4 linked regions of the Homo sapiens genome follow. The protein of the gene in region 2 interacts with the protein of the main gene of each other region in a pairwise test. Each region holds a gene or a part of one and is shown on either strand. Other genes may lie near its edges.

Region 1 (7,964 bases), on a different chromosome or scaffold from region 2:
ACAACAGTAAACATCAGTATGGAGGACTTGCCATAAAGAGGAAGAAGCCAACACTTTTTTTAAGTGACATTAGTGGAAACAAGAAATCAGAACAAAGGAGAGCTGGGAAGAATCCTTATTAGTTTCCTTAGAGTCATGGAGATGAGGCACTTGTGTAACAATAAGCTACTATGAAAAAGAAACAAGACAAATACATGCTTGGACATTAAAAATTTGATTGTGAACACATATTAAAGCCCTCTCCCAGAATGAGAATAAACGAGACACAGAAGGAAGGATAAAGACGCAACTCCAGGGCTCCACCTAGAACGTCCATCACAAACAGGAACTCCTAAGACAGAAGAGCAGAGCTGGAGAGGAAGAACTTCTCAGACAGAACAAGGGAACTTCCCAGAGCTGAAGGACAAAGCACCAGAGTCAGAGTCCCCGGCGTAGGAATCCACACACCTCAGCACACACAAGGGTAAAACATCATTAACACCAAAGAGAAGATCCAAGAGCGTTCAGGGAGGGAGAGGGGTCTCCACAAGGAGGAAGAGCACTTGCCAGAGGTTCCTGTGGAAACGAACAGAGCCAAGATGAAAACATTCCTGAACATACCCAGCTACAGAAGAAAGGAAAATATCAGGCTGGCTCGTGTGCAAGCTAACCCATCCAGATGAGAAGGACAGGGGCTGAAGGAGAAAGGGGACCTGACACTATCCTTGAGAATTTAAAACAATGTAAGGAGTCGATGGGAACAGAAAGTGCCAAGAGAAAAGCCATGACTAACAGAAAAATCCACGCTGTACAGGAAGGGAAACACTCAATTTGTCCGTGAAGAGAACAGTATTTGCATAGGCCTAACACAGACAGTCCAGGGGATAGAAGAGTTGGGATATGACAGAAGGGCTCCATCACCCCATCGTAATAGAAAGACAAGGCTGTGTAATACAAAATATCAGCTTAGAGCTAGGTGCAGTCACTCACACCTGTATTAGCGGCTACTAAGGAGGCTGAGGATCACTTGAGCTCAGGAGTTCGAGTACGGCCTGGGCAACATCAGGGGATCCTATCTCAAGAAAAAAATAAAAAGGATCAGCTTACTCAGAGCTGTGGAGAATGACCTAAAGAAACCACTCAAGATGTAAACCTCTTTGAAGAACGGGGCTGAGAGGTGGGGCAGGGGACCATTGCTTTTCATTGTAAGTCTTTCATTGACGTTCCTATTGTATACATTATATTGATTAAAATACTAAATATATGGGCTTTTTTTTTTAAGAACATAGGCTTCAGACAGACTGAATTCGAACCCTGGCTCTGTAAATCTGAGCAAGTCCCTTAGTGTCTGCGGGCCTAGTCACCTCATCTATAAAGTGGACGCAGCCTCTGCCTCCTGGGTCATGATGAAGCACCCGAGATGTTGAGCTGCCCCCACGCAGCGTGGAATCACAAATGGAAGCTCTTTTTTAAAAAGATTAAAGCCCCAGGCTGGACAACAAGGCGAAACCCCCTCTCTACGAAAAATACAAAAATTAGCCGGGGTGGTGGCGTCTGTGGTCCGAGCTACTCAGGAGGCTGCGGTGGGAGGATCACTTGAGCCAGGGAGGCCGAGGCTGCAGTGAGCCAAGATCACGATACTGCATTCCAGTCTCGGGGACCGAGTGAAACCCTATCTCCAAAAAAATAAAAATATTAACGCCAATGATGACAGAATCCAACATCGCAAGAATATATTCTTATTTTAATCGCCAGACACGGGAAGTGGACCCACATACAGAATTTTACCGCGTTTTGGTGTTTTCTTCTAGCACTGGATATCTGCGAGCTGCGTGTTAAATGACCAGATCCAGTTTTTATTTGACGTTTCCTGAGCTTACTCAGAACCACTCACTACTCCAAGTTATTTTTCTGTCCCCTAAGAACTTCCAGCTAAAAGTGAACCCTACAACTGCCTCCTCTTATCAATTATTTACTGTAGTGCGAGTTCCAGCATCGCCATCAGGCCCTGGAGTACATTCCTGGGCAGAACAGGCAACTCCAAACAGGGCAATTACCTGTTCCACATCAACAACTGTGTGACCCGGGCCCTCCCCGGTCAGGGTGCAAGCTCGCTACCCTTCAAAGCCCACACTCGCTCCACTTGCTCACAGTTCTTCAGGGATGATGTATTTCTCCAATAGCAAGACAACCCCTACCATCTCATCAGTGAAAAACATCAGTCCTCTATCAAGGCAATCTCTCCAATTTGCTCACACAGTGTGGATGGAATGTCATCTACTTTCTGCATCCTAGGGGGGAAAAAGAAAACGGCCACCTTCCTTAAGGACTAGATCACAGAAATCGCACAAACGTGCTGGGGAGGGGGCACCCCGAGGTCCTCGTTCATCGGGGCCCCTCGGGGGACGGGCTGGGGTCGTCGCCGAGGTCTGCGGTCCCCGAGAGCGCCCCTTGCGTGTGCAAGTCCTGGGCTATGGGGCTCCGGTCCACAGCCACGGAGGAGGCACAAAAACGATGCCTGTCGCTCCCGCCTGGCTGGCAGGAGCGACCCCCTTGGGAGACTTCGGGCCCCAGAGGAGCCCGGGCGCGGTTCTAGGCCTTTCCAGTCTCCCCGCCGTGGCTCCGGGTCCTTCCCGCGGGGCGAGGCCCGGGACAGAGGTCGGGAGCGCGAGGCCCCCGGGCCGGGCTGCGGCAGCCGCGGCTCAACGGACGCCGGGCGCGGTGGGGCCGGGGGTGCGGAAGCGAGGAAGCGGGAGCCCCTCTTCCGGGGCGCGGCCGGGGACGGGGAGCGGGGCCCGGGGGGCGATCGCCCGGCCCGGGCGGTTGGCGGCGGCGGGGCTGCGGCGCGGGCGGCCCGGCGGGCGGGAGGAGGAGGGAGGAGGGAGATCTCGCTCTCGCTCTCGCCCCGCGGGAAGGGGGAGGCGGAGGCGCGACCGGCTGCGGGAGCTGCAATTACCGTGTGGGCTGCGGAATTCTCGTGGTGTTTGTCGGGGAGATGCGATAATGGCGTCCGTCCTCGCGAGAGAAGCCGCCGCTCTGCGCAGGCGCCGCGAGCCCCTCCCCGCGACGCTCGGCCCCCGCCCTCCGCGCAGGCTCACTGGGCGCGCGGGCCCGGGGGCGGGGCACCCCTGTGGCAGTGAGGCCAGCTGCGCGCGCTTTTCCCGCTCGGCCTCCTGGTGAGCATGCGCAGGCGGCCTTCTTCCGCGACGGTACCGGCTTCCCAGGGCTTTTTTCCCCCCGTTTTTCGCCCACGCCCATGGCCTGCGTGAGAACAATCACCTCAGTGGACGGTCTGAGGAATTTGCATCTTCTTTGAGACGGAATGAATACGCATTAGCTCCCTCAACTACTACACCTCCCAGGGTGCCCTGCGCAAGCTGGGAGCCATGCATTCGGGGACTCGTAGTCCCTGCGTCTGGGCCATGCCTGCCGGGACTTGTAGTCTCTCCGGACTCCGGTGGCCCGTCCTGTCCCCGCACCAAGGGTTGCTGGGACTTGTAGTTACGATGTCTCAGGTGGGCTGTGCGCCCCCAGCGGGTCCTACCTGCTGCTGCGGCGGGTCCTGCCCTGAGGTTCCGGAGCGCTTGGTGGCGTTTTCCCTGACATAAGTGGTCAGGGGTCCCCAGTGTCTATCCAGAGGGGCCTGAGTGCACGCGCGCGGGACTTAGCACACGCGGCAGTGATTATGGTCTTAGATAAGTCCTATAGGTAACACATAATATAAATAAGTGATGGCGGCCGGGCACGGTGGATCACGCCTGTAATCTCAGCCCTGTGGGAGGCCAAGGCGGGCGGAACACCTGAGGTAAAGGGTTCGCGACCAGCCTGGCCAACATGGCGAAACCCTGTCTCTACTAAAAATACAAAATTATGCCGGGCGTGGTGGCGGGCGCCTTGTAATCCCAACTACTCGGGAGGCTGAGGCAGGAGAATCGCTTGAGCCCGCGAGTCAGAGGTTGCAGTGAGCCGAGATCGCGCCACTGCACTCCAGCCTGGCGACAGAGCGAGACTCTGTCTCAAAAAAAAAAAAAGTGATGACGTGAATGTGCACACGTAGAATAAATGTGCAAATGTGCGTTTGTGGGTAATCACAGGAAAAAATTCCCAAACCATAGCGCAGTTCCCAGAAATGTCATTCCTGGTTATCTCCCTCTGCTAATCTAGGATTACCTTGCCTTTCATTTTCTTCTTTATACTCGCCTCTGTTTCCTCAATTATTTGCAATGAGCAAGAATGCCTTTGAGCTCCCAAACACAGGGCGAGGCAGCTATTTTCACTGGGAAAAAGAAAATGCTGGCCGGGCGCGGCGGCTCACGCCTGTAATCCCAGCACTTTGGGAGGCCGAGGCGGGTGGATCACGAGGTCAGGAGATCGAGACCATCCTGGCTAACACGGTGAAACCCCGTCTCTACTAAAAATACAAAAAATTAGCCCGGCGCGGTGGCAGGCGCCTGTAGTCCCAGCTACTCGGGAGGCTGAGGCGGGAGAATGGCGTGAACCCGGGAGGCGGAGCTTGCAGTGAGCCGAGATGGCGCCACTGGACTCCAGCCTGGGCAGCAGAACGAGACTCCGTCTCAAGAAAAAAAAAAAAAAAAAGAAAGAAAGAAAAACAAAATGCTTTACCTTGAATTTCCTGCCCAACTCCCTTTTGCCAATAATAAAAACAGGATTCAGCGCAGTCATGGGCTATGCGACCTTGGGCAACCTTACCGAGTTAAAGTCTCCTCCAGAATTAGGCTTGGAGGTTCCACTGAGGCTGGTGGCTGGGTTACTTCGTGGCAAAAGTGCCTTACAAACACTCCAAGGAGGAGCCTTGGCAAAATGGCAGCGCTGGGACAGGTGTTGATCTGAAGATGGGACTTGTCCTTTTTCAACATGAAGATCAGCTCCAAAGAGATTAGAAAAATTGTCCAGCGAGGCCACAGGGCTGGAGAGAGGCACAAGCTGAGTTTGCAGTCCAGAGCGCCTTGCTTAGAGTGTGGAGTCCACTCACATGGAGGGAAAGGGTGCGTGCGATAGCTGACACAGAATATTCCCTCCGGCAGTGGGGACAAAACATGTTCTAGGGACGCACGCCTTTTGTCTCCACCTCCACCTCAATCACGGCTGCATTCAAATATTAATACTTGCCCATGTAAGAATTCTTAGCATCCACGCCGGAATATCTGGCTTGAAAACACAAACCTAGGGTGATGTCGTTCCTGTTGTTTCAAAACATTCCCAAGTCCGTGTCTGGAGCTGCACTTCCCCTATCCCCAGGCCTTGTGCAATGCTGGGCTCGGCGTCATGAACAGGTGTGAGTGGACAAGAGGAGGAACTTGTGGGCAAAGGTGAATCCATCTGTGACCATCCAACAAGCTACAGTGAGGTTTGTTGAAGGCCACTGCTGACTAGGCATTATCAGAAATTAAGCCAATCAAAACTATGATTGTGCTGCAGTTAGTGATTGTTTTGTTTTGTTTTGTTTTGTTTTGTTTTGTTTTGTTTTGTTTTGTTTGCATCAGGGTCTTGCTCTGCCATCCAGGCTGGAGTGCGATGGTACAATCAGAGCTCACTGCAGCCTCTACCTCTCGGGCTTAAGTGATCTTCTCGCTTGAGCCTCCAGAGTAGCTGGGACTGCAGGCATGCACCACCACCATTGCCTGATTTTTTTTTATTTTTTGTAGAGTCAGAGGTCTCAATATGTTGTCCAAGCTGGTCTTGAACTCCTGGACTCAAGCGGTCCTACCGCCTTAGCCTCCCAAAAAGTGTTAGGGTTACAGGCATGAGCTACTACACTTTTTTATTTTTGATGGTTTTGATTTAGTTTTTATTTTGCTGCTCAGGAAGCTAAAAAAGGAAGGCATTGTTCAATATTGGCATATAGTTGATTCACCGTAATTTTAAAAATGAAGTAGCTAGTCATCAGCAAAGACAGCTGTCTGTAGTGAAGGTTCGCTTACTCACCAGTCGGTACAAGGATCCAATCTGGCCTGGAGTTAATGAAGTTACAGTCACATTAGTGAGGGCATTATAAGAGGAGCGGGAAGTGCACTCTGGCCTGTGTGGCACCAGATATGGGGGCCACTTACAAGTGTGTGCACTAGGCCATAAGTAAAGGTCACAGAGGTCCTTTTGTCAACACCTCGAAATGCCCACATCAAGAAAACCCTGGAACCTTCCGACGGTTCCTCTTTCTGAGAATGTCACTAGGGTAGAGAAAGAGAAAGTAAACACGATGCACTCGGTGGCCCAGGAAAAGCCCAGGAGGCCGAGTGGAATGCTGGAACGCTGAGCCTGGTTGTTCTTAAGTGCGAGGACTTGGAGTTTGCCCGGCCAGGGCTAGAGTCTGAGCCTTCCCTGGGCAAGTTGCTGAGGCTCTCAGGCCTCGCTTCCCACTCTGGGAACTGGTGTTTAGATCTCACAGCTCACAGGGATATTGGGAGGGGTCCATGGCATGGAGGTGATGAAGCGTTTAGTAGAGAGTCTGATTCCGGATGTGCTCATGTTACCATGGGCTGGGTGCCCATGAGCCAGGCACATTTCACTGTAATTCCTATTCTTTGTGAAGAACAGGAAGACACGAGAGGTTGAGCAATACACCTGGGGTCACACAGCCACAGTGGGGGTAGAGACGAGAGGAGGCAGGTGGTGAGATGTGGCAGCAAAGGTAGTGAAGGCACAACTGCGTCCTTGTCAGCGAGGAAGGGGTGTCGTCTTGCTCCTGAGGCAATGGGGAAGACTTTACAAAGTTTGGGGCCAGAGTGGGTAGGATCAGATTTGTGTTTTGAGAAGTCCATCTGGCGGCCTGGCACAGTGGCTCACACCTGTAATCCCAGCACTTTGGGAGGTCAAGACGGGCAGCTCACCTGAGGTCGGGAGTTCGCAACCAGCCCAACCAACATGGTGATACCCCGTCTCTACTAAAAGTACAAAATTAGCCGGGTGTGGTGGCGCATGGCTGTGATCCCAGCTACTCGGGAGGCTGAGGCAGGAGAACCGCTTGAACCCAGGAGGTGGAGGTTGCGGTGAGCCAAGATCGCGCCATTGCACTCCAGCCTCGGCAACAAGAGCGAGACTCTGTCTCAAAAAAAAAGAAAAGTCCATCTGGCTGGAGTGCTGGAAAAGGAATGGGAGGAGGAAATACATTATCCTGCATGAATTTGAGGAGAGCAGTGGAGAAGGCTGTGACAGGCTCCAAGTGAGAGACGGAGGCTTGCTGCAGGGGGTTGCAGTGCAGACAGGATGAAGAGAAATGGACAGATTGGAGAGGTTCCACAGAGTGAAATCCACAGGACTTGCCCATGAGCCCGATGCTGGGGACTGCTAAGGGAGAGGGAGTGTCCAGGTGCTGTACTGGATGGTGGATGCACAGCTCCAGGAGATGGGAGACCGGACGTCATGGCTACCGCCCACGGTCGTGAGGACTGTCCCTGAAAACACATCTTTGCAATTGTTCCCCCCAGGGGGGCTCCTTCTGTAATTCATCCTCCACTCTCCACCCCTCCCCTGACTTTGCCACTTCATGCAAGGGCACTGTAAGGGTTTGAAGGTCTCACTGGAAGAGGTCAGCTTTGGGGTGAACTAGAGCCCTGAAAGGAGACCCCACTGGAAAACAAGATGATGATCCAGGGGTGATGGGAGGGGGTGGCAGTCAGCACCACTCAGCCCCTCCTGGCGTGGATCCCACCCTCTCCGGGGACAGGCCACACACTCTGGGCTGTCGAGAGAGACCAGGACCTACCCAGTCACTGCTGTGTGGATACGGTGCCCTCTGAAACTGGAGAAACAACCTACGCTTCCTGTACCTTACCTTCCTCACTTGTAAAGTGGATCAGCAAGGCCTCAAATATGGGGGCCGCTTACACGTGTGTGCACCAGGCCATTTGTAAAGGTCACAGAGACCCTTACTATCTGCGTAGTAACATGCATTTGAAAGAGAGAGGAGAGAGAGAGAGTGGCATTGCTTAGGCCCAGCAATTTGGCTGATTTCTCCTTTGTCTTGG
Region 2 (6,830 bases):
GGCAGCATGAGCCTGGTATGCAGTAGATGCTCAATAAATAACATGTCTTGTTTTCATTCGTTCAAACATGATACTCTATTTTTGAGTACCTCCCTCCCTTTTGAGAAGCCAGATCCCCTTATTTCCCATCTCAGATCCCCAGGTCCCACCTGGGCTGCCTTATGGGATGGAGTCTCCTGGAGCCAACTTCCCTGAGCCTCCCAGCCCCAACTGGCATGGCCCTCGAGTCTCCCCACGTGGTATCCCCTGCCTTTGCAGTGACCTACACACTCGCCTCTGAGCCAAGATGGCAGCAAGAAACCCGTTGCCCCTCCCCGTCATGCTGGGGCATTCTGACCACTGCTCTGGCCTGCCCTGGGGTAAGATGACAGCAGGTGGCCCTGGGGAGGGTGGATTTTCTCAGGGCTGGCCCCTTCTCATCTTTTAGATCACACTTTGTTGCCTGCGCAGAGAGGCCCTTACCAAGCACTGCATCAGGAAAGGTCTTCACCCCAATCACTCTCCCTCTAGCATCCTGTTTCAGTTCCTGCAGAGCATTCATCGCTGTTCAAAATCATCTTCTTTATTTATTGGGTTACTTTATTTATTCAGGGTGGGTTCCCTCCACCCCAAAAATACCAGCTCCAGGAAAACCATGGTATCTCCCCAGCACTTTGCAGGGCCTGGCATGTGGAAGATGTACCAGTAATATTTGCTGTATGAATGAATGAGTCTCTTCATGTGCAGGTGACTTATCCTGCCTCTGCCACTCGACGGATGTTTCAGATGCCCCTTAGCGGATCTAATGATGTTTCCTTGGCTCAAGCACAAAAGACTCCTGCTTAGCTGGGGAAGCAGGGCCAGGCCCTGGGAATTGCAGCCTCTGGGCATCAGAGCCCGGCCCTTCCAGCTAATCGGCCTGCCCACAGACACAAGAGGAGAGGGCTTTCAGTGAGTCCTTGACTGTTCCCCAAGTTGAAGACCTCACAGGCGCAGCCTTCACGGGTTTCCCCTTAGCCTCGGGAACCTCCTGGGGGCAGAGCGGGCTGACTGGGAAGGAAGCTGAGGCCACAGACCCTCTGCAGAGCGGCAGGGTGGCCCTGGCCTGGGCAAGGCATCCCCCACCCATGGGGGTCACCCGAGTCAGATGGGGCCAGTTTTCCCCACAGAACACGATGTAGGTCTTCATTGGTGGGGTGACAAGCCCTCGATTGGGACTGGGGGCTTGGGGTGGTGATGCGGTTGCTGCCAGGGAGAGCTGCTTCCCGTGGGTGCAGTCAATAACAAAAGTCAGGTGAGCCGTGGGGACGGTCTTCTGATGGCCAGCCAGCTTCCCACCTAGAAGAGAGGAAAAGACCAAAAGTTAGCACAAGCAGGGGACTTTTCTTTTCCCCTGAGACAGGGTCTCACTCTGTCGCCCAGGCTGGAGGTCATGGCTCACTGCAGCCTCAGCCTCAGGGGGCTCAACCAATCCTCCCATCTCAGCCCCCTAAGTAGCTGGGACTACAGGCTCATGCCACCATGCCTGGTGAATTTTAAAATTTTTTGTAGAGATGAGGTTTCCCTATGTTGCCCAGGCTGGTCTCAAACTCCTGGACTCAAGAAATCCTTCTGCCTCAGCCCAATCAGTACTGGAATTGCAGGCGTGAGCCACTGCACCCGACTGGGACATGGTTTCCTGAATTCATTTGTTTATTCATTCGATAGGGTTCAACTGGATTGGTTGATACACCAACAGAGGAGGACAGTCAGGGTTTAAGTGTATGGACTTCAGCATCAGAGAGACCTGAGTTCAAGTCTCCACTTACCATCCATCCATCTGCCTTCCAGGAACACAGAGTCCAACATGTCAGTGCCTCCCAACTTTGCTGTTCCCATGAGCTGCCTGGGGAGCTTGTTAAAATGCAGAGTCTGGTGCAGTGGGGCTGGGGTGGGGCCTGAGACTCGCGTTTCTAACAAGTCCCCAGGGGATGCCAATTCTGCTGGTCCATGGACCATATTATGAAAAGCACAGTCCTCAACCCCAGAGAGGAAAGCCCTGGCCATCTTTCCAGGTGAGGAAACTGAGGCTCAGCCTGCACAAGTGTTGGTGGGTCTCAGGGAGCATCTTGCTACTCTCCCCCTCCCCAGATAATCTTGTCCACAGCCTCAGAGAATCCCATCAGTACCTGGTGGCATTTGCCCTGGCAATCCCCCCGCTCAGAGCCCAGCACAGGGTAGAGGGATGGACAAACCAGCCAATAGACTTATCAATGAAGCAGGTGTCTGAGCAATTGTATCTGAATCCAAAGCCTGTGCTCTTAAAAAGGTAACTTTTTGAGTTACCCAAATAACATACACATCCATTCTCTTAGCTACGTGCTGTGAAACACGACGTGGGCTCAGAAGGAAGCTTATGTTCTAGTAGGTTGGCTAGCACAGGAAATAAAACGAGCCCGCCCTTGGCTGGAGAATCCCAGCAACCCAAGGGAGGTAGCATGTTTGCCATCAGACCCCCACCCACCCCCAGCTGGTCTTGCTTTTTTTTTTTTTTTTTTTTTTTTGAGATGGAGTCTCACACTGTTGCTCAGGCTGGAGTGCAGTGGTGCGATCTCAGCTCACTGCAACCTCCGCCTCCTGGGTTCAAGCGATTCTCCTGCCTCAACCTCCTGAGTAGCTGGGATTATAGGCACCCGCCACCACACCCAGCTAATTTTTTGTATTTTTAGCAGATATGGGGTTTCACTATGTTGGCCAAGCTGGTCTCGAACTCCTGACCTCATGATCTGCCCGCTTCGGCCTCCCAAAGTGCTGGGATTACAGGCATGAGGCACCGCACCTGGCCCCCAGCTGGTGTTTCTGTGGGGCTGGGGTCCCTTTGCCGCCTCTTACCGGAGCTGGTCTCCAGGCCTGTCTCACGGATGGTGCCTTTGAGGTTGGCTCTCCAGTCCCTGGGGTCTTCTGACGGGGCCATGCGGCTACTTCGGCGCCTGCCTAGCTCTGGCAGGAGAGGAGCTGTCCTAGGCCACTCTTCCAGGATGTGGCTCCCCCACTGCGGGACCAGACCTTTTATACTGACCGGATCCGGATTCTCTGAGTGCATTCCACCAGGAGCCAAAGGAACTGGCCCAGAGCAGTCAGGGGATCGCTTTGATCAACAGGGTTATGTCAACAGGATTATTGTTGGCTCAATGGGAGGCAGGCCTCCTACCAAACAGACCAAACAGACACTATTTCTACCAAGCGCAGCTGCTTCCTGATTTAGGGTAGGCCTCTGGAACCTTCTCATCCAGCCTCAGTTTCCCAAACCTCAGTCATTATCCAGTGGTTCCACCAGTTTGGCTTTTTCCCCTGTCTAGGAACTATACGTAATGCTACTTAATTCACATGTCCTTGAAGTCAGCCAACTGTTTTTACTGAAAAAGAAGTGCACTTGGCCGGGCGCGGTGGCTCATGCCTGTAATCCCAGCACTTTGGGATGCCAAGACGGGTGGATCACAAGGTCAGAAGATCAAGACCATCCTGGCTAACACGGTGAAACCCCGTCTCTACTAAAAATACAAAAAATTAGCCGGGCGAGGTGGCGGGCACCTGTACTCCCAGCTACTCCGGAGGTTGAGGCAGGAGAATGGCGTGAACACGGGAGGTGGAGCTTGCAGTGAGCCGAGTTTGCGCCACTGCACTCCAGCCTGAGTGACAGAACGAGATTCCATCTCAAAAGAAAAAAGAAAAAAAAAGAAAGAAAGAAAGAGAGAGAGAGAAGTGCACTTTATTTATTTATTTGTTTATTTATTTTGAGACTGAGTTTCGCTCTTCTTGCCCAGGCTGGAGTGCAATGGCACAATCTCAGCTCACTGAAACCTCCACCTCCCAGGTTCAAGTGATTCTCCTGCCTCAACCTCCCGAGTAGCTGGGATTACAGGCATGCACCACCACACCCGGCTAATTTTGTATTTTTAATAGACACAGGGTTTCTCCGTGTTGGTCAGGCTGGTCTCGAACTCCTGACCTCAGGTGATCTGCTTGCCTTGGCCTCCCAAAGTGCTGGGATTACAGGTGTGAGCCACTGCGCCTGGCCAGAAGTGCACTTTATTTTAATTTTATTATTATTATTATATTTTGAGATGGAGTCTTGCTCTGTTGCCCAGGCTGAAGCGCAGTGGTGTGATCTCAGCTCACTGCAACCTCTGCCTCCTGGGTTCCAGTGATTCTCCTGTGTAAACCACCTAAGTAGCTGGAACTACAGGCGTGTGCCACCACACCTGGCTAATTTTTGTATTTTTTTTTTTTTTTTTTTTTTTTTAGTAGAGATAAGGTTTCATCATGTTGGCCAGGCTGGTCTCAAACTCCTGACCTCAAGTGATCTGCTTGCCTCACCCTCTCAAAGTACTGGGATTACAGGTGTGAGCCTCCGCACCTAACCTATTTTATTTTATATCTGCTACTGGCCCAGATGAAAGAAATGCACTTTAAAAGGAAATTTGGTATTGCTATATTAAATAGAAACAGTATCACTTCCAGAAATAAGAGGTACCTATGCCTGGTAGCCAAGTTGGCCGCCAAAGATGTCCACGCCTTAATCCCCAAAGCCTGTGAATATATTACCTTATTTGGCAAAAGGGACTTTGCAGATGTGATTAAGAGTTTGAATTTTGAGAAAAGGAAATTATTCTGGATTACGTGGGTGAGCTCAATCTAATCACATGAGTCCTTAAAATCGGAGAACCTCGCCGGGCGTGGTGGCTCACGCCTGTAATCCTAGCACTTTGGGAGGCCGAGGAGGGTGGATCACCTGAGGTCAGGAGTTCGAGACCAGCCTGGCCAACATGGCAAAACCCCGTCTCTACTAAAAATACAAAAATTAGCTGGGCGTGGCGGCACACGCCTGTAATCCCAGCTACTCAGGAGGCTGAGGAAGGAGAATCGCTTGAACCTGGGAGGTGGATGTTGCAATGAGCCAAGATTGCACCCCTGCACTCCAGCCTGTGTGATGGGAGCGAGACTCCATCTCAAAAAAAAAAAAAAAAATCGGAGAACCTTTTCTGGCTGGATTAGAGAGATGTGATAACGGAAGAAGGCCAGAGAGATATGAAGTGAGGACTCAACCCTCCCTTGCTGGCTTTGGAGGCGGAGGACGGGGTCCTGAGCCAAGGTATGCCAGTAGCCTCTAGAAGCTGCGAAAGGCAAAGAAAGGGATCCTTCCCTGGAAATTCCAAGAAGAAACCTTCCTGCCAACACCTTGATTTTAACGCAGTGAGACCCACGTTGAACTTCTGACCTATAGAGAAAAAATTTGTGTTGCTTTAAACTCCTAAATTCTGATAATTTATTTAGTATCAATAAAATACTAATACACTATGCAAATAACAAAGAAAATTTTAAAAATTAAATTTTAGCTAAATTTTGTTGCCTGTGTTACATGACTTAAAAAGTAACTGGGTTATTTATATCTTACTACAATGTCTTGCTTCCTTCAGGGTCTCACTGTTGCCCAGGCTGGAGTACAGTGGCACAGTCATGGCTCATTGCAGCCTCGACCTCCCGGCCTCATGCAATCCTCCCACCTCAGCCTCCTGATTAGCTGGGACTACAGGCTCATGCCACCTCACCTGGTTAATTTTTTAAAAAACCTTTTGTAGAGATGGAGGGTCTCACTGTGCTGCCCAGGCTGGTCTCGAACTCTTGGCTTCAAGCAATCCTCCCATCTCGGCCTCTCAAAGTGCTGAGATTATAGGTGTGAGCCACCATGCCTGGCCTACAGTTTTTTTTTTTCTTTGAGACGGAGTTTTGCTCTTGTCGCTCAGGCTGGAGTGCAATGGTGCAATCTCGGCTCACTCCAACCTGCAACCTCCGATTCCCAGGTTCAAGCGATTCTCCTGACTCAGCCTCCCGAGTAGCTGGGATTACAGGTGCCTGCCACCACGCCCAGCTAATTTTTGTATGTTTAGTAGAGATGGAGTTTCACCATGCCGGCCAGGCTGGTCTCCAACTCCTGACTTCAGGAGATACTCCTGCCTTGACCTCCCAAAGTGCTGGAATTACAGGCGTAAGCCGCTGAGCCTGGCCCCACAATTTTTTTAAAGAAGTAACTGGACACGCGTGATAGCAGGCACCTCTGATACCATAGGACAAGAAGGGTACTTTATGTCTGTGGTCTCCTACCCCAAAATTCCTAACGCCAGTCTAAATATGAGAAAAACATTGGATAAATCCAAACTGAGGAACATTCCATAAAATACATGTACAATCCCCAAACTCTCAAGATCATGAAAAACAATGGGAGACAAAAACTGTCACAGACCAGAAGAGACTAAACAGACATGAAAACTTGCTACAGTGGAGGTATCCTGAATTGCATCTTGAAAAGGGCACTGCAGAAATACTGGTGAAATCTGAATAAAGCCTGGAGTTTAGACGCTAATAATGTACTGATGTTGCTTTCTTAGTTTCGACAAACATTCTATGGTCATGTAACGTGTTGACAATAGGGGAAATTGGATGTGGTGTATACAGCTCTGTACAACCGTTGCAGCTTTTCAATACATTGGAAATTGTTCTAAAATTTACAAATTATTATTGGCCAGGCACGGTAGTTCACGCCTGTAATCCCAGCACTTTGGGAGGCCGAGGCAGGTGGGTCACTTGAGCCCAGGAGTTCTAGGTGAGCCTGGGCAACATGGTGAAACTCCATCTCTACTAAACATACAAAAATTAGCCAGGCTTGGTGGTGCGTGCCACAGTGCACAGCGCACAGCCATAGCTCACTGGAGCCTCAAACTCCTGAGCTCAAGCCATCCTCCTGCCTCAGCCTCCCAAGTAGCTAGGAATACAGGTTCATGCAACTATGTCCAGCTAATTTTAAAAGTTTTTGT
Region 3 (6,937 bases), on a different chromosome or scaffold from region 2:
GTTTCTACTAAAAAATACAAAAAATGAGACAGGCATGGTGGCGGGAGCCTGCAGTCCCAGCTACTCCGGAGGCTGAGGCAGGAGAATGGCGTGAACCCAGGAGGCAGAGGTTGCAGTGAGCCAAGATTGCACCACAGCACTCCAGCCCGGGCAACAGAGCGAGACTCCGTCTCAAAAAATAATAATAAAAATAAAAAGAAAAGAACAGGTATTCATGTAACACCTAATTCTAAGGCTAATTCAGAAATCAGAGACCCTTACAGATCAAGAGTGGCCATTTAAAAAGCAGACAAGAAAGAAATATGGCACATGAAGTATAAACCACAACTAATTAAACTAAAAGAAAGCATATCCAAAAAAAAAAGCATATCCAAAGTAAGGAAAGACATCCCTGATTCTGAAGCTGCCTTAAAGAAAGGCAGCCACATCCAGAGCCCCTGACTTTGGTTACTTTCCTAGAGCAATTCAAATTTACAAGAAAATTAAACCACTATTTGATCTTTAGTTTGAAATGGCAACATAAGCTGGAGAGAGGATGTGGAACTGCAGAGGTTCTCGAAGAGTTATAGGAAAAATTCATCAGAGAGGACCCGAAGGAAGACATCTAATAAGTAAATCTTAGTTGACAAACTTGGAGAAAAAGTATTTATAAACACCAATTTAAAAGGAAGATCTCAAGCTTAATAGTTAAAAATAAAGATAACCCAGAACAAGCAAGCCTAAAAAATTAATCAAAATTTGGTCGGGCGCGGTGGCTCACGCCTGTAATCCCAGCACTTTGGGAGGCCGAGGGCGGGTGGATCACGAGGTCAGGAGTTCGAGACCAGTCTGATCAACATGGTGAAACCCCGTCTATACTACAAATACAAAAAATTAGCCAGGTGTGGTGCTGCATGCCTGTAATCCCAGTTACTTGGGAAACTGAGGCAGGAGAATCGCTTCAACCAGGGAGGCGGAGGTTGCAGTGAGCCGAGATCACACCCCTGCACTCCAGCCTGGGTGACAGAGTGAGACTCCGTCTCAAAAAAAAAAAAAAAGTCAAAATTTTAAGTGTATCCTAGAAAAACTTTACAGCTTTTCTTTGAACCATTTAGGTCCGTTTAAAAGCTGAGCCTGCAAACGCTTAAATCTGCGGGTTCCACTGACTTATATCCTAAGAGGAGAAAACTGAGCAAGTAGCGAACTGTGGCTGAATTCAAAGATGCCGTTCTCCCACATCTTCATTTTACAGCACCTAATAGTTTCTGGAAGACAGCACCCAGAATTGACAGGATTTGTAATGCTTCAGTATTACCAGAAAAAAAACTGTGCACAGATACTTCCAGGATATGAACAATTTTAACTCACCAGTCACCATGTTGCATGTATTTCTGCTGCTTGTCCTGAGTTCTTAAGACTTCTAATATTCTGAAGAAGATAGAACAAAAAAGTTCCTTCCATCCTCAGCCTCTTTTTATTAATAATTTTAACTTTGTTCTTAAAAACAATACAGTACATTAGAAAGAACTACCCCACCATTATCAAATTTGATGGCTAATTTTACTTCCTCTTAGCTTCCTATTCCTTAAGCTTAATTGAGCAAGACTGTAAATCAAACTAGCAGATGTTTTGTATTAGAAAAAAGAGGTGCCTATTTCTCTAGAACAAACCTAGAACTTCCTTGACACCAAAACACAGCGGCAGGGTCAAAAAAAGAGCTGAAAAGGACTGAAATCCTACACCAAAAGTGACTTTTACAGTGATACACTATCAGATTTTAGTAATTTCTGCTGGGATTTCTGCAATTTCAAAAAAGGTAAAGCACTGATTCTCAGGTTGTTCCATTTTGTTTAAGGCCAACTTTTTGGCTGAGGCAAAGGTGGGCCTTTAATATAATAAAGTAAGCCCCTCCCACTTACGCAAAAGAAAAGCTGCGTTTAAGGATTTAAACTGGCATTTTAGAGCTCGGAGTTCACATGGGCCACATAAGCGAATTCCCTTCCGGAGCGCACAGAGGTGACGTGTATGAATTACGCTTATGGACGTATTAGTTTCTAATGAAAGATAAGCAGGTACCACTCAAGGGCCTTCTAATATTAACCTTCCCTGCCCGGCAGAAAGCCCAGTACAAGGTGAGGAAATCCGAAGGGGCTCACTGCCCTCTCAAACCAAGAGGGCTTGGTTTCCGAAGCAGAGAAACACCCTACCCAAGCACCCGCACCGTACTTGGGCCTCAAGTAACGGCATTCTTCGAGGAGAACGGGCAATCTCGCCCCCCTCACAGAGGAGCGGAACCGCAAGCCAGACAGCAAAGCTGGTTGGTTTCTCTCCAGGCCGAGGCCACGGATGCCCGGGAACGTCACCAGACCAGAAAGGACCCAATCCTCAACCTTCCCAGCGCAACGAGCCGCGGCCGGCCCTCTGCTCAGCAGAAGCCTCCTGCGCGCTCTCGAGGCAGCACCGCCACCCGATATCAGAGCGCGCGCCCCAAAACTGGGGGTCGTCACGGGCGCGCGCTCCAGAAAGCCGCGGTTGCCCACGGGCCACAGCTCCTAGAGCAGAGATATCCGGGCCGGGAACGCGCACGTCGGCGGCCACGCGCACCGAGAGCCGCACAGCGCGCGCGCGTAAAAACAGGCTCAGCCGCGCGCCCGCACCGGCGCGCCATCTCGCGCCGCGCCCACCCAAATCCCCGGGCCACCCCTCCCCCATCCACAGGGCGGGGTGCGCTAGCCCAGGAACGTTTTCGGCTCCGGAGCCGCCCCGAACTCTCCAGGGCCCAGCGGTAGTGGCCCGCCCGCCCCCGCCCGCCGTTGTGTGGGGTGGGCCCCCCGTCTCAGGCCTACAGCTTCGCCGCATCCCCACCCGCACTGGAGCCCTCACCCGGCGACGTCACTGCCGCCGCCGCCGCCGCCTCCGCTGCACCCGCCGGCCCCGCCGCACCGCCAGGGACCCTGGTTCTGCCGTCGTCGCTCCAAGACCGACAGGGTTTTCTCCTCACAGCTCCCTGGGCGCCATCTTACATTCAACCCTCACAGCCAATAGGAGCCGATTGCTCCTCTCGCGATAATCGGGGCGTCGGATCCCGCGAGATCTGGGACTGCCTACCGGCCAAAATTAAAGTGAACGCTTCAGCAGGGGAAGGTGGCCGCGCTTCTGGCCGCTAGAGCGGATAGTGGATCCTAGGGTATGGAGCGGCTCGCTCCGCCCATGGACGCCTCTCCATGTGGGGCGGAGCTAGGGCCGTGGCTTGGCCTAGTAGTGGAGTCTCGGAAGGCTAGGGCTCCAAGCTAGCTCTTTGGACCCACCTTCCGTCGCCCGCCAGAGCCTCCTTTGGTCGAGCACGCCCACGCGGGGCGGGGCCTGGCCAGGCTCGGCCTCTCGCTTAAGGTGGACCCCACAAACTTCTGTCCTGGGCCTGGCGTCCCCAGCCGTGCCCTGCCTGGGAAGCCTCTAGGTTGCTCACCTCCTGGAGGAGTCAGCATCTGGTACTCCCGCTGTCTGCTGCCATCTGAGTTCAGCCTTCCGCAGTTGGGTCCACCTTAAAGCGGGCCCCCGGGTAGCCTAGTGTTTGTATACAGGGAAAATGTGGAAGGCGTTAAAGCTGCAGGCACACTCGGGCCTCAGCAGCAGCCTACACTGCCCCCAGAGGGCTTCCAGCCTGCTGTAGACTCTTTTTGCCTCGGAGCTTTTGCCCTTGTTCCTCTTATCCTGGCAAACTCCCCGTAGTCTTTCGTGATTCCCTTCAGAAGTCACTTCGTTAGAGTAATGTTTTCTGAGGCCCAGGCTGGGTCAGGAACCTCTTCCAGTCTTGCACAGGCCCCAGGGAGACCGCTCCCATACAGTGCTTGGTCACCCATTTCCCCTCCCGTGAACTTGGAAGGCCACCACAGCACGTATGCCCCATCTCACTTTGCCTGGCACGTAGTAGGCACTCAAAAATTATATGCCGAATGGGCCGGGCACGGTGGCTGAAGTCTGTAATCCCAACACTTTGGGAGACCGAGGCGGGTGAATCACCTGAGGTCAGGAGTTTGAGACCAGCCTGGCCAACATGGTGAACCCCGTCTCTACTAAAAATACAAAATTAGCCGAGTGTGGTGGTGCATGCCTGTGATCCCAGCTACTTAAGAGGCTGAGGCAGGAAAACTGCTTGAACCTGGGAGGCAGAGGTTGCAGTGAGCTGAGATCACACCATTGCACTGCAGCTTGGGGGACAAGAGTGAGACTCCGTCTCAAAAATAAAAAAGAATTATAGGCTGATTGGGCGCAGTGGCTCACGCCTGCAATCCCAGCACTTTGGGAGGCCGAGGCGGGCAGATCACCTGGGGTCAGGAGTTCCAGACCAGTCTGGCCAATTTGGCAAAACCCCGTCTCTACTGAAATTACAAAAATTATTCAGGAGTGGTGGCGCCCGCCTGTAATCCCAGCTACTTGGGAGGCTGAGGCACGAGAATCGCTTGAACCCGGGAGGCAGAGGTTGCAGTGAGCCAAGATTGAGCCACTGCACTCCAGCCTGGGCTAGAGTGGAACTCCGTATCAAAAAAAAAAAAAAAAAATTATATGCTGAATGATCAGACTGGGAGCTAGGCCTCTCCACACCAGCAGAAACAAACCTTTTAGATCCCTCTGGCACAGGGGTCCTAACCATGGACAAACACCCCAGGGCCCTCCATTCTCTCAGACCAGGTGCGGAGGGTATGAATCCTACCCAGGCCCCTGCCTTTAAGCACCAAAAAGTGCACCGGTGCTTTCAAAGCTGTCAGTACCACTCTGTTCTGGGAAAGTCCATTCTCACAGACAAAATGTGCAAAAGGCACATCTCCATCCCCCAATCATACCACCACCACCAGCATGTCTTCAGGGCCTTCAGATGCTAGAAGTGCAGAGATAACACACAGACTCTAGGAGAATTTAGCTGTTCTTTATTGACATGGAATTTGGGGTGGCGAGGGTAGCCACACCCTCCAGGAGGATGAGGTAGGTTCAGTGCTTCCAGCTCACACCTTTCCTGGGTCTTCCTTCAGTGTGACAGTTCGGTTAAAGACAAGCTGGAGGGCAGAGGGAAAAGGATGACCACCAACCCAGAACAAGGCCAGGGAGGCCTGGGCAGGTTTCACCACAGACACCTCCCCCTAACATCCTTCTTAAGCCAAAGAAGCCGAGGGACTAAGGGTCAGGAGGCCCGGGTCCTCAATAACTTTGTGACTTTGGGTAAGGGACTGAATGGGGCTCTAGGCTATAGTATTATATGGACCATAACAACCACCGTGGGGGTCCAGGGTATAGTTTTATATGGATTATAACAACCACCATGTTTGCCCCCTACTTTAAGGAGTAAGAAAGACAGGGTGGGCTGGTGCAGTGGCTCACGCCTGTAATCTCAGCACTTTGGGAGGCTGAGACAGGCAGATAATCTGAGGTCAGGAGTTCAAGACCAGCCTGGCCAACATGGCAAAACCCCGTCTCTACTAAAAATACAAAAATTAGGCCAGGCGCAGTGGCTCACGCCTGTAATCCCAGCACTCTGGGAGGCCGAGGCAGGCGGATCATGAGATCAGGAGATCGAGACCATCCTGGCTAACACGGTGAAACCCCGTCTCTACTAAAAAATAGAAAAAATTAGCTGGGAGTGGTGGCGGGCGCCTGTAGTCCCAGCTATTTGGGAGGCTGAGGCGGGAGAATGGCGTGAACCCGGGAGGCAGAGCTTGCAGTGAGCCGAGATTGTGCCACTGCACTCCAGCCTGGGCGACATGTGAGACTCCGTCTCAAAAAAAAAAAAAAAAAAAAAAAAAAAAAAAAAAAAATTTGCCGGGCGTGGTAGCATGTGCCTGTAATCCCAGCTACTTGGAAGGCTGAGGCAGGAGAATGGCTTGAGCCTGGGAGGCGGAGGTTGCAGTGGGCCGAGATCGTGCCACTGTACTCCAGCCTGGGCAACAGGGCGAGATACTGTTTCAAAAAAAGAAAAAAAAAAAAAAAAGGATGGCAGGGTGGCTGGGCACAGTGGCTCATGCCTATAATCCCAGCACTCTAGGAGGCTGAGACAGGAGGACTGCTTGAAGCCAGTAATTCAAGACCAACCTGGGCAACATAGTGAGAACTTGCCTCTACAAAAAGTTTTAAAATTAGCCAGGCATGGTAGTGTGCACATGTAGTCTCAGCTAAGGCAGGAGAATAGCTTGAGCCCAGTAGTTTGAGGCCACAGTGAGCTATGATTGCACCACTTCACACCACCCTGGGCAAGAGTAAGACCCCGTCTCTAAAATAAATAAAAAGAAAGGTTATTAGCTGCCTTAACGAAAGATATTAAAAATAATATCTTTCGGGTGTTTCACCATGTTGGCCAGGGTGGTCTCGAACTCCTGACCTCTGGTGGTAAGCCCTGACCTCTGGTGATCAGCCTGCCTTGGCCTCCCAAAGTGCTGGGATTACAAGTGTGAGCCACCATGCCCTGCCTCAAAAAATAATAATTAAAAAAAAAAAAGAGGTCGGGTGCAGTGGCTCATGACTGTGATCCCAGCACTTTGGGAGGCCGAGGCGGGCAGATCATGAAGTCAGGAATTCGAGACCATCCTGGCCAACATGGTGAAACCCCATCTCTACTAAAAATACAAAAAATTAGCCGGGTGTGGTGGCAGGCGCCTGTAATCCCAGCTACTCGGGAGGCTGAGGCAGGAGAATCACTTGAACCTGGGAGGCAGAGGTTGCAGTGAGCCGAGATGGTGCCATTGCACTCCAGCCCCGGGCGACAGTGCAAGACTGTCTCAAAAAAAAAGGCAGCCTTCATACAAAATTTTGTGCCTGGAGTTATCCTCAGTGCCAGTTTCCTCACTAGTAGAATATGAATACCAACTCCCTCAGGTGGTGAGGATTAACTAAGGGAATGTATGCAGAGCACTTGGCACAATGAACGGCAGCCACTGTCACTGCTGCAGATGAGGGCAGGTGAGTAAAGTCA
Region 4 (7,112 bases), on a different chromosome or scaffold from region 2:
ATTTTAATGAGATAATGTATAAAAGCACAGGAATTAGTGCTTAGTACACATCAGATATCCCAGAAAGGAGCTATTAACACAATCCTGTATTAAACTTTCGTCTATAATGGTGACCCTCAACAAGTCACTTTCCCTTCCCGGGCCTCATTTTCCAAACTGACAAGTGTGGTAAGTTCTTCTACTTAGCTCCTAATGAACTTATCCATCAAATGCTACCAGGTTAAATACTGAGCAAAAGGAGCACAAACTCCTACTGAGTGAACTGCTACCTAGCCTCCAAGGGCCTAGAGCTTCCTCACAGATCCCAAGCATTCTTCAAGAAACCGCAGAAGACTGGCTCTCCAATATAACCCATCGTCTGATGTGAGCTATTTATAAAGTCTGTATTAAAAGATTACCGGAATATCTTTCTGAAATTGTATATACTGTAATTAGAAGCTACAACCTCCTATTTCATGATGAGATCCTGCAGTTTTAGCATCTTTTAAATGAACGCTATCCTTACAGATGAATTTTTTTTATCTTAAAGTAATTTAAACCACAACACTTTAAAAGCACGTGTGAGTTTAAAAACAATTTTGTAATGACTGATTTTTTTTTTAATCAACTATGCCTCATTCTCAGCCAGCCTGTGGGTGCCCCTCTGGTATCTAAACAAAGTGAGAATTGTACCTTCATGGGTGAGGTCCTTTTGCAGGGCCAGAAACATGCCCAGAGACTTTATCCTCGTTAACAGCTGCTCCCAGGGAGCCAGGAAATTTACTGATCCAGTAAATTTCAGAGTCAGCCTCCAATGAGGGGGAACCAAGGGCCCCCACAAAAGGCACAAAACCAGCGCTCCCGGCTGCTATCCACTGTGGGGCGTTGCCCGGGCACCCAGGTTCATAGCTTTAACTTAGGGGTGGAGGAGCAACTCCGGCAGCAGAAATCATTACAGAGCGAAGCAATTTTGCCCAAGGCCTGAGGCCTCAAAAAAAAAGTGTTATTCCAGAGCAGATTCCTTTTCTTCCGGGTCTGTCTGCTCCTTCTGACTCTTTGCCCACAACCACCGTGCCTCCCCATTCCCAACGCCCCACCTCCTGCCACATTTATTTAAAAAAAAAAAAAAGAAGAAGAACAAGAACAAGAAGGAGGAGGAGGAGAAGAGAAGGAAGGAAGGAAGGAAGGAAGGAAGGAAGGAAGGAAGGAGAGAGAAGGAGAAAGAAAGAAAGAAAAAGAAAGAAAGAAAGAAAGAAAGAAAACGATTTTTAAAAAGCATATTCCCTCTCCCTTAGCTTTCCCTAGGAAGGCCTGGAAACTGAAGGAAATTCAAATCAAATTAGTTGCACATTAAAAAATAAACAGACAAGCAATCAGGGGGTGCCCACCCAACAAAAGACCTCACCCGTTCCAAAATATGATTAAGCCTGGGAGGGAAGAGGGGGAGGGGGGACTAGAAACCAGCAGGGATGGAGAGAGAAACCTGTGGATTTTTGGCCCCAGCGTTGGCCCATTGCGGCCAAATTCTAAATTTTGTTTAAATAAAATGCTGGGTTGAGGAGAAAAGAAAACAAAAAGTTATAACTTTTAAGGAAGTCTGCAAACGGCACTGTCTGGATAAAATGCCATTGCTTCCCTTCGTCTGGGATGGCAGGGTGGGAGCTGAGATTCCAAAAGCTCCAACTCCGACCGCGCACTCCTGGAAGCCTCCCCGCCAAAGGCGCCGCCGGGCGGCGCAGCCCAGTCTCCCGAGACGGCGGGCCCGGGTCCTCCGGTTCCCACGGGACGCCGGGACCCGGACCTCTGGGAAAGTTCGCGGGCACAGCCCGAGGCCCCACTTTCTGCCGAGAGTGACAGGCCCTTCCCACGCCTGCCGGCCCCAGCCCAGCCGCGGGCACCAGACGGTCCGCGCGGCCCCTCCTGGCCGCCTCGGGGCGCAGATTCCGCCCGCCCGCCCTATCCCCGGCCGAGGCGCCCCTCGGGGTGACCGACTGACCGGAGCTCCGCTGGCCCACACACCGGGTCGCCCGCTCCTTCCCGCCGCGCCCCGCTCCCCCGCCCGAGCTTCCAGCCGCCGGCTCGCCAAGTCCGGCCGCGGCCGCCGGTTACCGCCCCCAGCCCGGGGGGAGCCCGGGGGGCAGGACGGGGAGGAGGACGTGGCGTGCTCGGAGGTGGCCAGCAGCGGGGCGGGGAGTGTCCCGGAGAGGCCCAGCCGGGGACGGGGGGGCCAGGCCGGCGCGGGCTCGGGACCCTCCCCGCGAGCATCCCCGGGTTCGAGGCCCCCGACCGCCCCCGCCGGCGCGGAGAGGCGGCCCCAACTTCCAGCCCCACTTCGCACTCCCGCCCTCTTCCCTCCACCATATGGAAATCTACAGCCTCAGAAAGTGACACGTCGAAGATTCCTCGGCCTCGCCGCCCGCCCTCCCCCTCCTGGGCAGCGTTCCTGCCGCGGAGATTCCGGGAGGGGGAGCGGATTCCTCGGACAAAATCTGCTGGGAAGGCTGGGGGTGGGGGGAGGCCGCGAGCCACTGCCCAATTTTTTTTAAGAGGAATCTACCCGTTTCTTTCACTCCTCCAAACCCTGAGGCAGGGGGCACAGGCGGGGGACCCCAGCCCAGCAAGGCGGGGGCCGCCCCCTCCCGGGTCCCGTGTTCCCGGGGTGCCCAGGCGAGCACGGGGCGCCCCAGCACTCCGGCGCCAAGTTTTTGCCGGGAAGCCCAGGGCGCTCCCGGGACAGGGACGCACTTTGGCGGACTCGGCGTCAGGCCGGGGCTTTCCAGTGCACCGGGACCCGGCGATCGCGCTCGGGGTCCCGGTCTCCTCTAGTCCCCGGCTCTTGCACGCCTTACCTTCCCTAGGGCTGAAACGCGGGGCTCTGGGCGCGCCACACACCGGGTCGCCCACGCCTTCCCAGCCGGCAGCCTGGAGGATCCCTGCCGCCCCCTTCGCTGCTCCCGCCGCCGCCGCTCTCCTCCTCCAGCCGCCGCCGCCGCCGCTCAAATAACTACCAGGAGGGTTTGATGGGGGATTCCGCCATGTCAATGATGTCGGGACCACATGGGGATTTGGGGCCCGCCCATTACCGTAAACCGCCGAATATACCGGCCGCCACAATCGCAGACTCGCAGAAGCTGTTGTCCCCCGGCCCTGCCTAGCTAAGCAGAAACTCCTTTTGGTTCAGCCAGACTAAAGAAACCTGAGGCTTAGGGAACTAACAACTCCTGAATGGCGAGGGCTGCGCGTTCTGCAGATCGCCAAAGTAATATAAAGGCAATGTTTACTCAGTGATAATTAAGCCTAAAACTGACTTTTTTTCATTTACACATATATTTCGCTTTTTGTTGTTGTTAACCCCCACAGCAACCTTGTGAGCTATATTACTCCCACATTTCCCACAGCATTTTATTCATACAACTAACATAGTATGAGCAATTTTTATTATACTTAAGTTAAAATCTCTCTTTCCTCTTTCTTTTTGTTTTTTGTTTTTTGTTGTTGTTGTTGTTTGTTTTGGGGACTGCAGGCACGGGGCAGGCATGAGCCACCGCACCCTTTTTTTTTTTTTTTTTTTTTCCTTTTTTGGAAGAGAGGGGGTCTCAATAGGTTGCCCAGGCTGGTCTGGAACTCTGTCGCTCAAGTGATTCTCCCGCCTTGGCCTCCCAAAGTGTTGAGATTACAGGCGTGAGCCAACTCACCCAGCCTTATTTCACAATGCGTTTCTCAGGGACAAAGACTGTTTCTTACTTTTATCTTTATATCCGTAAAATATAGCACAGTGCAAGGACCACAATAGGACTCATTAAATAACTGTTGAGTTCATATTAAGTCAAATGTAATGTATTTCTGTTGTACAGGCTCTAAGAGGTTAACAGACTGCATCCCATGCCACCCCTCAGATTATTCAGGAGACAAGAGAGCAAAAGTTAGCCTAGAGAAGCCCCTTCCATCCATAGCTGTCCAGGTATTCTGAATAGCTACATTCAGCCTCAACTATTAAGCTACAAAGGAGCATTCAGGGAGTCACTAGAGACAATGTATTACTTTTGTTAACCTAAAAAATAATAATAGCAGTACATAATACTCTGTTAAAGTCTAAAGAACACTAAGAAATAGCTCCTTCCTTCCCTTGTTCATTTGCCATTCTTTTGGGGAGATTTTAGCCTTTTTTTTTTTTTTTTGGAGGCAATGGTGAGTCCAGAGAAATGGGGACCTCTCTCCTAAATGGCTTATTTACTGTGGAGCTCCTCAAAGGGGAACTTGAAGCCATCTTTCTATAACATAACTCCAATTCTAGGTCATAGTCCTGCATGAGAAGCCGGGGCGGGGGGTAGGCAGTAGTTCCTTAGTGCCAATAGGGTACAATCCAATAGATCCCATTTGAGTCCAAATGCCTTCTCTGGCTCCAGACTCTTTGGCTTCCTCAGGTGCCATGCCTTCAGCCCAGCTGATCACTCATGGCTCCAGAAGGTACCTGTGTCCCTTTGTACGTGCCTTCCCTCTGAAACATACTTCTTCTTCCCTATTTAAGATCATTTACTCATCCTTGATCTCCGGCTAAAACCACTCCCTCCTTTCCTCCCTACAGTCTCATACCTCTTTTCCCCACAATCTTATAATCCTTGTCAGTTCTCACATTGCTCTGAAGTTAGTCTTTTTTTTTTTTTTTTTTTTCTGAGGCTAGAGTGCAGTAGCATGATCGTAGCTCACTGCGTCTTCAAGCTCCTAGGCTCAAGCGAGTCTCCCACCTCAGCCTCCCAAGTAGCTGGGACTACTAGTGTGTGCCATCACGCCTGGCTAATTTTTTTTTAATGTTTCTTTTTTTTTTTTCATTTTTGTTGCCCAGGCTGGTCTCAGACTCCTGAGCTCAAGCAATCCTCCTGCCCCAGCTCCCAAAGTGCTGGGGTTATAGGCATGAGCCACTGTGCCCAGCCTGAAGTTAGTTATACTTTATCTCTTCCACTTGACTGAGTTTTGTTCATGTTTGTATCCCTAGTATCAACCTAGAATTCTGCTTTGAATATAAGACCCCTTTGTGTTTGGTGAATGAATTAATTGTAAAGTATGTGGAAGAATCTGAATGACTAGGTAAGTGAGCAAACTTCAGAATGTGAAAGGTCAAATTCAGGTTGAAGGACAAGCTTGGCAAAGGAGGTAAAAGTAGGCAAGGGAAGTTTGGAGGACAAAGTTATTTATTCCTGTTTCTTCCACTAGACTGAATTTTTTCTTATTAAGAAGAAAAAGTTTCAATTTTCATATAATGCTTTATAATTTCACATGCATGTTCATATATATGATCTCAGTGTTTCATTCATCTTCTTTGCCCTAACACCTAACACCAGTTTTGGCACAGAAAAAAAGCCCATTAAATGTTTGCAAAATGAGAGGAAGTATGGTACACTGGAGAGAGCATAGAACATAATGAGAGAAAAGGAGTGATGTTGGGCATAAAGTTCTCTGAACCTGAATTTTCTTATTTGTTAAATTGTGATCTTTAATAAACCTTCTGGTCAAGGTTGTTGTGAGGATTAAAAAACTCAAGCACCTGGTACTCAGTAAATAAATATTGGTTACTCCTTGAATGAATGAATGAATGAATGAATGAGTAAATGAATTAATAAAGATATATTTCTTAAAAGGATTAATAGGACAGAATTGGAAGCTTCAGAGAAAAAGGTGGAATTTGTGATAGAGGGCTCTCACCTATACTTTGAGGGATTTAGATTTAATACAGTGAGAACACTGTGGGATTATTGAGGCATGAAGTAATTAAAATAGGTTTCAAGGTTATCTTAGCAGCAGGATATAGAACAAGGCTCATGTCAGAGATGCATGCCCTGAACCTACTTTGGAAATGATAAGACTTACACCAGAGTCATGGTTCTGGGAATAGGAAGAAGGACCTCAACCTAAGGCAATGAGTATGACTATCTGGTGTTGACAACCTGCATAATCTGCTGCTCTAGGTCCCAAATTATGAAACTATAGTCCTGGCTAAAACTTTGCTCCAAAAGCACCTTAAGATTTGCTCAAATACAAAAGTTAACATCCAAATGAAGATGCCTAGAAGTTAAGGCCTATAACAAAATATAGAGACTCTTAAACCCTTCTACCACCTATGCAATGTAGGCTGAGTCCAAATTTTAAAAAGATTCTTAGTCATACTTCTTCATCTCAAATAATTTATATCAAAAAATGCAACAGTAGTACACAGGAAAGAATGAAAGTATTGAAGCTAGCATTGAAAAGGTCTCAAACAATTCAACTTTTCTGAACACTTCTGTAGTCTAAAATGTTTAAATTTGAAACTCTCTCTCAAAGATCACTATGACTAGTAACACGTAATATCTACAAGACCCAGCTGCATTCTCAGTTTCAATGTCCTTCTTCTCCCTATAGCTCGAGTTGCTAGGTTCCCAAGGCAGGCTCAGTTCTGCCCCTACTCTTAAAAACTGCTCTTGACCACCAGGCATGGTGGCTCATGCCTGTAATCTCAGCACTTTGGGAGGCTGAGGCAGGCGGATCACCTGAGGTCAGGAGTTCGAGATTAGCCTGGCCAGCATGGTGAAACACAATCTCTACTTAAAAAAAAAAAAAAATACAAAAATTAGCCTGGTATGATGGCAGACACCTGTAATCCCAGCTATTTGGGAGGCTGAGGCAGGAGAATCATTTGAGCCCAGGAGGCAGAGGTTGCAGTGAGCTGAGATGGCACCATTGCACTCCAGCCTGGGCAACAAGAGCAAACTTCCATCTCAAAAATAATAATAATAATAATAATACTCTTGACCCTAAATAGAAGGCATTAACTCTTTGCATCTACTACTTATTCTAATGTCCTGAGCCATATCTGACACCAGCTTCAATATGAACACTGACCAAAAGCCAATTCATCTTGTTTTAAAAGCAACACTGCCACTTCAGTGAAGCACATTTCTCCAACAACTTCACCAGTCACATCTGTGGTTTTGCCGCCTTTTCTATTGTTCAAGGCAAGATAAGCAAATTTTAGCTCAATGTTTTATTTAAAGAAAAACACATTTTAAACAAAGAGATCTGTCCCACAGTTACCAGAACTATTCAGGTAGAAGCTGAATGATTGACAGGGCTCTTAAAAATCACAGGTTGATAGACTC

The links.
Region 1: the proteins of SRARP (region 2) and BANP interact in binary tests that used the Homo sapiens proteins (3 or more experiments, as listed by UniProt).
Region 3: the proteins of SRARP (region 2) and QRICH1 interact in binary tests that used the Homo sapiens proteins (3 or more experiments, as listed by UniProt).
Region 4: the proteins of SRARP (region 2) and FNDC3B interact in binary tests that used the Homo sapiens proteins (3 or more experiments, as listed by UniProt).

The regions. Positions count from the first base shown.
Region 1 is NC_000016.10:87,946,487-87,954,450, reverse strand, and holds the start of BANP (protein BANP), read right to left. Parts: upstream 3,018-7,964; 5' UTR 2,936-3,017; intron 2,271-2,935; exon of another isoform or gene 2,037-2,270; intron 1-2,036. UniProt on the Homo sapiens protein: Controls V(D)J recombination during T-cell development by repressing T-cell receptor (TCR) beta enhancer function. Binds to scaffold/matrix attachment region beta (S/MARbeta), an ATC-rich DNA sequence located upstream of the TCR beta enhancer.
Region 2 is NC_000001.11:16,000,406-16,007,235, reverse strand, and holds the start of SRARP (steroid receptor-associated and regulated protein), read right to left. Parts: upstream 3,001-6,830; 5' UTR 2,933-3,000; coding exon 2,851-2,932; intron 1,318-2,850; coding exon 890-1,317; 3' UTR 1-889. UniProt on the Homo sapiens protein: May regulate the transcriptional function of androgen and estrogen receptors.
Region 3 is NC_000003.12:49,091,050-49,097,986, forward strand, and holds the start of QRICH1 (transcriptional regulator QRICH1), read right to left. Parts: upstream 3,023-6,937; 5' UTR 2,863-3,022; exon of another isoform or gene 2,845-2,862; intron 2,562-2,844; exon of another isoform or gene 1,899-2,561; intron 1,408-1,898; exon of another isoform or gene 1,348-1,407; intron 1-1,347. Other genes in the region: QARS1 (glutamine--tRNA ligase), read right to left, coding at 4,980-5,030. UniProt on the Homo sapiens protein: Transcriptional regulator that acts as a mediator of the integrated stress response (ISR) through transcriptional control of protein homeostasis under conditions of ER stress.
Region 4 is NC_000003.12:172,035,488-172,042,599, reverse strand, and holds the start of FNDC3B (fibronectin type III domain-containing protein 3B), read right to left. Parts: upstream 3,023-7,112; 5' UTR 2,829-3,022; intron 2,070-2,828; exon of another isoform or gene 1,976-2,069; intron 1-1,975. UniProt on the Homo sapiens protein: May be a positive regulator of adipogenesis.